3 separate regions of the Homo sapiens genome follow, and all the other regions are linked to region 3. Evidence: fine-mapped expression QTL. A gene starts in region 3. Each other region holds a variant in brackets. All regions are shown on one strand. Distances are between the middles of the regions.

Region 1 (2,752 bases), 53 kb after region 3:
TCTATCTCACCGAGTAATGAGAGCCCCCCTCCAGACCCACAGTCACACTGTCCCTGTGCCCTCAATTAGCACTGGACAAACACATCCTTCTGCCCCATTCCTTGGCCCAGAACTGGCTCTGACGTCCATGCTGGCTGCACACTCACTGTTGCGTTCTTCCTCCACACCCTCTGCCCGGCCGGCCCTGCCCCTGAGCAGCCTAGTCAGTGGCAGCTGGGTATGGCTGAGAGCTGGGGTTGGGGATGGAAACCCGTGGCTCACCTCGGCTACTGGCCATGGAGCAGCTCTGGGCACCCCCAGTCCTGCCTCGTCTCTCCCTGAAACTCCCAAAGTGGTGGGGGTCTTCCCAGAACACTGCGAGGCATGACCTCCCAGGGCCAAGGATAGAATCCTAGATACCTTTGTTATCCCATCCCCTCACCATGCAGCTAAGCAAGCTACTGGTAGGTGCTCAGAAAATAAAGGGAAAACGTCAAATGTACTGTCCCAAACAGCAGGACGACTCTGAGAAAGGGTCTGAAGAATTCTTAAGTTGCCCAAAGGTCCAAGTCGGGTAGAAGGTGTGAGGACGTCGGGGGAACTGCAGGTTTGCTCCCACCCGCACCCGGTTCCCTATCCCTCCAGCCAGGGATGAGAGGGAGCTGCTGCAGCCCTGCAGAAAGGGAAGAGTGCTGCCAAGAAGGCCAGGGGATGGTGAGGCAGAAAAGGCAGTCCTTTCTCAAATGAAGGGACCAACAGTGTAACGGTCTACTTTGGTAAGGTGTTTACAAAAGACTCTTATACATTTAATCCTCACAAAAGATCTGGGAGGTAGGTGGTCACACCTCCATTCATCCATTCATTCATTCACTCATTTATTTTTGAGATGGAGTCTCATTCTGTCGCCCAGGCTGGAGTGCAGTGGTGCGATCTCCGCTCACTGCAACCTCTGCCTTCCGGGTTCAAGCGATTCTCCTGCCTCAGCCTCCTGAGTAGCTGGGATTGCAGGTGCCCACCACCACACCTGGCTGATTTTTGTATTTTTAGTAGAGATGGGGTTTCACCATGTTAGCCAGGCTGGTCTCAAACTCCTGACCCCAGGTGATCCACCTGCCTTGGCCGCCCAAAGTGTTGGGATTATAGGTGTGAGCCACGGCACCCAGCCTACACCCCCATTTAATGATGAGTCTTTGAGAGATGAGATGACTTGGTAAGGAGTGCAGTTGGAACTGAACCCAGGCCTTCTCTCAAGGAGGACCAAGGAGGCCAGGGTATTCCTGGCATGGGCTGAGATGGGCTCAGAGGTCAGTGGCACCAGGAGGCCCCTGTGGCTGCTCCCCTGCTGGGTGTTCCTGCCCAAGTGAGGCCCCAAAGGGCCTGCATATCAAAGGACATTCCCTAGACTAATGCACTTCCTCTCTGTCTTTACTCCCCCAAATTCCATCATTCTGCTCCTTGTCACCTCGTGGGGATGGCAGACAGCAATATTCCTGGGAAAGAAACAGAGAAGTGTGTGTTTTCACTCTTCATGACTTGCCAACAGTCACACAACAAGCTAGAGGCAGAGCTGGAATGAAAAGCCAAGTCCCTGACTTCTAGCCCCATAGTTCTGGAAGCCTGCAGCCTTGGAGAAAGAT[G/A]GATTCAAGTCCCCCAGACTGTGCCCATCAAGCCTGAGGGACTACCAAGTGACAGGGCAGCAGTAGGGGTGAGTAGGTGGTATGTAGATCTGCAGTCCCTGACGGTTCATTTCAGAAGAGTGGTGCCCAGGGATTCCTTTGCCCACAGATGATCAGGCCCCCTGTGCCTGCAGCAACTCCAAGGTGGTATAAGGCTTTGGAGCAAGCATAGAGCAAGCCTGCTTTTCCAGCCCAAGTGACCCTTTGGGCAGGAAGGACCCAGACATTCAGATTCCTCATCCCACATTTCCCAACCCAGAGCCCAAATAGACCCAAACCACCCCAGCCTCTGGGAGATCTCCTGGATATATTTGGTTGGTCTGGACTCTCCAGTGCTCTGGGCCCCCTCCCCTTGGACTTGTTTCTAGGGAGTTGGGACTGGAGGCCTGCAGACACATAATGGCCAGAGGCCTGATGGGGCAGGGCTAGGGGCTGCTGGGCAGTGATGCCCAATGACAGGCTGGGCGTGGAGCCCAGCGAGCAGATGCTGGCGCAGGTGTGACATCATGCCCCTGGGTAGGTGCCAGTTCTCATGCCGTCACTCCCGAACAGATCCAGCGGCCAGGGGGAAGGGAGCCTGCCTCTGAGCAGATCAATTTGGGACCACTTCCTGCCCACTAGTGGAAAAGCCCCAACTTCCACACCCTCTTCCCGGGCATGGGCAGGGTAAATTCCCTACTTCTCCTATTTTGTTCCTCTACTTACTTTTGTGGCTTTTGAGTTTCATGCGCAGAAGGCAGAGGGGCAAGAAGTGGCTTCTTGGAGTGAGGAGCAGGAAGCGTGTCCTTCAGTCCAGGAGGCCTGGGTCGGCAGGTATAGCTACTGGCATGGGGCCAGCAGTGCTGCCTTCCTCCCCAGAAGTCTGCAAACATTAGTTAGCTGCCTAGGATAGGGGCTCAGTCTGGCACAGAGCCCAGAGGGAGTGGAAGCCCAGCAGCGGGAGGGGAGTGGATCCTCTGGGATTATTCTGAATGCTCTCCCATTTCTGACCTGAACCCATCCTACTGCTAGAAAATGAGACAAAACGGGTAGTTTTGCAGCTTGTTACGTATCTAAGCTCAGATCAGCTGGGGTTGCACTCAGCATCTGGAGGCTCC
Region 2 (2,752 bases), 60 kb before region 3:
TGTCTCAAAAAAAAAAAAAAAAAAAAAAGAACTCCAGAGGGCAGGAAAGGCTGCTAGGGGGCTGATGGAGAGGGATGTGTTTTGAGTTCTCTGAGGCTGATCCTTAGCTCTCTCTCAGCCTACAACATCCCAGGAATGACCCTGCGTCCTCTGGCTGCTTGCAAGTCTGTTCACAGTAAAGACGGTCCATCAAAGGGGAATCTCTTACGCCTGCCCCCCGGTCATTCCCCTCAATATAGCTGCCCTTCTCAACTTCCTGTTTCAATCAATTCCTTCTCTCCCTTAAAATTGCTTCCTACCCTCTATAGTTATTACCTGCAGCACAGGTCCCATCTGGGAGGAAATATAGGCCATTCCTAGACAAAGCAGCCCATAGCCAAAGGCTGGGGGAAAAGGACAGGAGAGGAAACAAGAAGGTGTGAGTTAACACAAGCAATGGGGTAAAGCAAGGCTCCCTGCCCAGCCAAACTACCACCTCTGTCTCTCTGGAAACAAAAGGCATATTACATCACGCCCCAGCTTCCTCCCACCAAGTCCTCACTCCTATGTGACTCAGAGACCTCCCTAGGACATGCCCTGAGATGGAAACAACCATGCATGCAGGGAAGGTTGTGTGCTTCATTAGGCAAGTGCTGAGCCCCGGATAAAGTGGGTGTTTTACAGCAAACTGATGACAATGGTCAGGATGAAGCTTAGAAAGACCCAGACTGAAGAGATGAGGAAGCATAACCCCACCAAGGCCTCTGGAAAGCATGATGGCCCGGGCTTCAGAGAACTCAGGGAACCAAGGTCGAATCAGGTCTTCCATCGTAACAGTTGCCAATGAATTAAAAGCAGAGGATATAGTGCTGAAAAAGAGGAAGAGGATGAGGAGTTGAGCGAGGCAAAATTGTCAGCTCTATGGGACTCTATGGAGGAAATGGTGTCCTAAAGCGGGGAGATGACAGGTACCACCAAGAAACCTCCTCATAGTTGGACTTGATGCCACCTCAGAGCGGGCCTGGAAGGCAAGGACACAGTCCTTTTTTGAATGTGGATATGGGTTTCATTCGAGTAGATCAATTTCTGGTACCATAAAAGAACTCTTAACCAAAACAGGGGTATCTCTGTTGTGCTGTGGCCTACAAAGATGAGCTATCCCTTGTCATGCACACAGATGGGGCAGGCACAGTGAGAAACTTAGAGGGATTCCCCACCCACTATCACCCCGCTCCACCCATCACCTTGTACCAAATAGGGGTCAGGTGCACCAGGCCTGAGGGAAATCGTTAAAGTGGGTACCTGAGAGAGCCGCTGAAGAGGCAGGCAATGAAGAGCCCTGGCAGGCCTGGCAGGCCCTTCAGGAGATCCATCACAAAGTACAGGACGAACTGCAAGCAGAGCGGAGGTACACAGCAGTCCTCAGAGAGGGGTCTTCCCAGGGCCGGCTCTGCAGGGAAGCTCCCTTTACATGTGCCCCAGCGAGTCTACCGAGACTGGGTGCATTA[C/T]AAGGGAAGCCAGGGCCTGGGGCACCTCTGCTGACCCAAGTGTCTACACATTAAGTGGAGAGAAAATGAGCTCTACAGAGGGAATGACACAATTCGCCCGCAGCTCTGTTTCTGGCTACTAGTGTGACTTCTGCTTACTGGCTACCTCATTGAGTCTGTTTTCTCCTCTGTGAAATGAGGCTGTTAGAGGCTTAGGTGAGACCAGGTATGTGATAGCTCCCAGCAGAGCACATGGAGCCCAATGGGGAGTCAGTAAGGGTAGGTCCTCACCCCAGTAGGATGAGCACTGTGGTTAGGTGATGCTAGGGACCGCGATCCTCACATGCTAGATTCCTAGCATCTCAGAGTGGGAAAGGATTTTACAACCGTCTCCCACCCAGGGTGGGAGTCCTTTCTGCAGTCAGTCCTTTCCTACCTAGACACTCCTGTTGTGGGGCCAGGCCTGCCCTCATGGGAACAGAACAGCGCCTTCTCACCTGGTCTGGGGCTGCCTGAGCCTGCTGAATGCTCATGGGATACTCCTGGTAATACGCGAACATGACCAGGCCAATGAGGCAGCCCACGCAGAGGGACACCTGCTGGAAGGGGAACACTGCATAACAGGAGCTGCAAAAGAGGTCAGTGCCAGGAGGAGAGCCGGCGTTAACAGACACCCTCAGGTGTGTGCCCCTGACCTCCAGAAAGGAGACCCACATCCTGACCACAGTGGATGTGTATGCACTCTGGCATCCTGCCCCACCCCAATTATCTCTGGGGAACCCCTTCCCCTAGACCTTGCTCCACTCCCTTCCTGTCCCTGCACTCACAGCACAGCAGCCTTCTCCGTGCGGGAACTGAGGTACCGCTGCACCTGAGCCTGGTTCACCCCGTATAAGGAGAGCATCATGAAGACACCCCCGAAGGCCAAGGTCCAGAAGGTGTGCCGCACAAAGGGGTCTGGATCCAGCCTGTAACAGACACCACCCAGTCATTGTGCAAAGCCTGAGAGACACAGCCTTCCTGCCCTCTTGGCAACAGGAGTCAGTGGACAGGAAAGGAGAGACACCACTGCTAGGGCCAAGGGGGACACTGAAAGCAAGAAGCTGGGTGCACTCGAGAGACAGCACAGCCAGTTAGAGGGAGGCTCCATTCTTCCACCCCAGGCTCATTCCAGGTACTCATCCCAGGTAATGTCCTGACTCTCTATAAACACTAGCCGGGCACCTGTAATCACCCTCCATCTCTGCAGGACCAGTTTCCCACTGTCTGCTGTTACACCTCAGGCT
Region 3 (2,752 bases):
ATTCCGGAGACAAACGGACGGTCAGCCGACAGACAAGATGGCCCACGGGGGTGGGCAGGGAGGTCGGACGGCCGCTCAGAGGGGCAGGTGGACGGTGGCGGCAGGCGCGGGGGCCGGCGGGGCGCGTTGGCGGTTCTCCTGCCACCCCCGGCCCGCTGTCCCGGCCGCTCCGCGCGCCTCATTTCACACCTCGCCGCCCCCGGCCCCGTCTGTGCGGAGCCGGGAATACCCCCGCTGCCCAGACCGCACCTGCTCCTTCCTCGCCGCCCCCTCGCTTCCCGGCGGCCGCCCGCCCCCCAGGGGCCCGCAAGACCCGCGCGGAGCCCGGCCCATCCTCGGGCCCCGGCGCCCACAGCTGGCCGCGGCTGGAGGGGGCGCGCGGAGGGGAGCCCCCGGGGCCTACAGAGGGAGCTCTGAAGCCTGGGCAGCGAGGCGCTCCCGCCCTGGGCCCGGGGCAATGCGGACCTTGGCGCACCGGGCGAGGGCTCCGGCCCGACCGAGCGGCAGCTGCTCCCAGGGAAGGCAGGCGCCGCGGGGGTGGCGGAGGGGTCCGGCGGCCTGGGACGCCGGCCGGAGGGGAGTGAGAGGCCGCTTCACCCGAGGAAGTCAGGCGGCCGGGAGGAGGCGTAGCCGGCTGTGTAGGGCTGGGCGCTCCGTGTGGCCAGAGGGGATGAAGCGGGGTGCAGCGGAGCGAGGGACCCGCGGTGCGCTGGGGCGGCCGCCGGGGCCCGCGCCGAGAGAGACAACGAAATGGACGGAGGGTAGTAGGGTGGCGCCCCCGGGCCGAGGGCCAGCCCAGGTCTGTCCTACCTCTTCAAACGCAGGCTGCCTCCGGCGCCACCGCGGTCCCGGGGGCTCACCAGGCGAGTGGTCTCCAAGCCCCCAGCGGCTGGAGAGGGCTCCATGTTCCCGGTGCCCCGACCGTCTAGGCCCCACCGAGGAAGAGAGAGGCCGGGCCGGCCCCGCGCCAAGTCCGAGCAGCCCGCCGACCCCCGGGATCCCCGCAGGGCGGCGGGGCCACCAGAGTGGAGCGAACTGCAGCGACTGTGGCGCGCGGAGTCCGAACTGCAGATCCCGCTGCCGCCGGAGCCCCGCCCCGCGTGGGGCGAGCTCCCCAAGCTCCGCCTCCAGGCTCCCCGGCCTCTCCCCACCCTTAAGCCCCGCCCCCACTGCCAAAGCCCCATTTCCCCGCGCCAGAGCCCGGGAGCGCCCCGCCACCCGAGTTCTGGAGAACTCCTCATCTCCACAGCCCCGTCCCCCAGGCGAGCTAGCCCCACCTCTGCACACAGTCCCGCCCACCGGTTCCAAGCCTCGCTCCTGAAGCCCAAGAACCTCACGACCAACCTTCGCCCAACGACCACCACTCTGTGCATGCCTGCGCGGGGGTGTCGCCCACCACGCCGTCACCCTGTGGCCGCAACCCTCACGCGGAGGCAGAAACAGGAGCGGACCCATTACCTATCTCCAGAGAACCAGAAAGAACATGAGGTGAGCGGTGACACAGGGAGATTCCAGGGACTCCAGAAACCCCTTTACGGAGAATCTGGGGTCGGAATTCACGAGCCCAGTCTGCTGCCAATCACTGTACCGCGAATGATCATTTATTTTTATACAGAAACATTGGGTGACAAGCTTCCTGCTCTCCTTCAACCCACTGTTATCCCTGCTTTTCAAATGAGTAAACTGAGACCCAGAGGAAGAAGAGTCCAAGGTCATGCAGGCTGTGAATAAAGGGCCCGGCCTGGACCCCCATCCTCTTTCCCTCCCCGGCTCTGGACGCCGCACTGGCAACTGGAGAGCGCTCACAGTTCTCTTACGGGCGGGGGTCCAGTGAAGTCGAGCCGCCTATCTGGTGTCACGGCCACTGTTTATGGAGAGGGGCTGAGGGGCAGCGGGGCAGCGTGTCAGCTAGTGATTCCCATCCTCCACACCTGCAGCGCCCTCCTGGACATTACCGCATTCTGCCTCATTTGGGGGAAACTAAAACCCAGGGGAGGGAGCGACTTACAGCAAAGTCGGTGGCCGAGCCTCAAGTCGAAGCTTCAAATGCTCAATGTTCTCTCCCCTCGCACCTGCCGCCACTGTAGAATGGGAGGGGGTGGGAAGAGGATTGTGCACTCGAAGCTGTGACAGTCTGTGAAGAGGAGGGTCCGTAGGAGGAGGGGAGCGAGTGAGCAGGGATGGGGAAGCGTGGAGGGTGGGAATGGTTAGTGAGCCCAGGCAAGAAACTCATCAGCCGCATCCTTCAGAACACACTGGGCGTCCTGAACTTAGGCTTCTGGGGACAGACACCTACCCTCGATATTGTTATTCCAACGAGCCCAAGAGTGCACTTGCAAAAAAACAAAACAAAACAAAACAAAAACGGGAGCACGTGCCAGATACAGTGGTTGGAAGTGATGGGGTTAACCCGGGAGAGCTTCGCGGAGGAGGTGAGGCTTAAACGGATTAGGAAAGCTGGGCGGCGGGCTGGCTGTTCCGGCGGGGGAGAGTGTGGCTTGGCCCGTGCCAAGGTGTGCGGGCGGCGCGTGCGAAGGGACTGTCCTGCGCCGCTGCTGCAGAGCGGCACGGGAGAGCCACAGGGGCTGCGCGCGCCCTCCGCGCCGTCCCCACCCCCGGCTGCGCCAGCCTCTCCTCCGCGCCAGCCCCCAGCCTCCCCAGTCCAAAGCCCATGAGGGGTGAGGGGGTAAGGGAGCGAGGGGGTCGTTCTCCCTCTAACCTCCCTTTAAGGCGCGGGACTTGACGGACCTCT

Which allele goes with the higher level. Alleles are on the strand shown, and positions count from the first base shown. SD is a standard deviation of normalised expression in the study named. Not every link is listed here.
For the expression in atrial appendage of the gene that starts at base 1,046 in region 3, allele G in region 1 goes with a lower level than allele A (moderate effect, 0.62 SD a copy in GTEx).

The links. PIP is the estimated chance that this variant, and not a neighbour inherited with it, causes the effect. A credible set is the group of variants that fine-mapping cannot tell apart.
Region 1: its variant is the best candidate, but not a certain one, in a credible set for the expression of SLC30A3 in atrial appendage (GTEx, PIP 0.71).
Region 2: its variant is the best candidate, but not a certain one, in a credible set for the expression of SLC30A3 in lung (TOPMed, PIP 0.80).

What each region holds. Positions count from the first base shown.
Region 1 is chr2:27,314,718-27,317,469 of GRCh38, forward strand. The region is part of intron 2 of MPV17 (mitochondrial inner membrane protein MPV17); the gene reads right to left. Among named protein-coding and RNA genes, the nearest start is that of MPV17, 7.0 kb to the right of the region's middle. The variant G/A (reference allele first, on the strand shown) is at 1,617.
Region 2 is chr2:27,202,498-27,205,249 of GRCh38, forward strand. It overlaps SLC5A6 (solute carrier family 5 member 6), which reads right to left. Exons shown (of 17, transcript NM_021095.4): 8 at 2,294-2,434; 9 at 1,964-2,093; 10 at 1,282-1,370; 11 at 736-848; 12 at 316-383. Among named protein-coding and RNA genes, the nearest start is that of ATRAID, 8.2 kb to the right of the region's middle. The variant C/T (reference allele first, on the strand shown) is at 1,488.
Region 3 is chr2:27,262,002-27,264,753 of GRCh38, forward strand. It overlaps SLC30A3 (solute carrier family 30 member 3), which reads right to left and starts at 1,046. Exons shown (of 8, transcript NM_003459.5): 1 at 811-1,046. The coding sequence starts at 905. RefSeq lists silencers at 601-760, 811-990, 1,011-1,080, 2,555-2,644.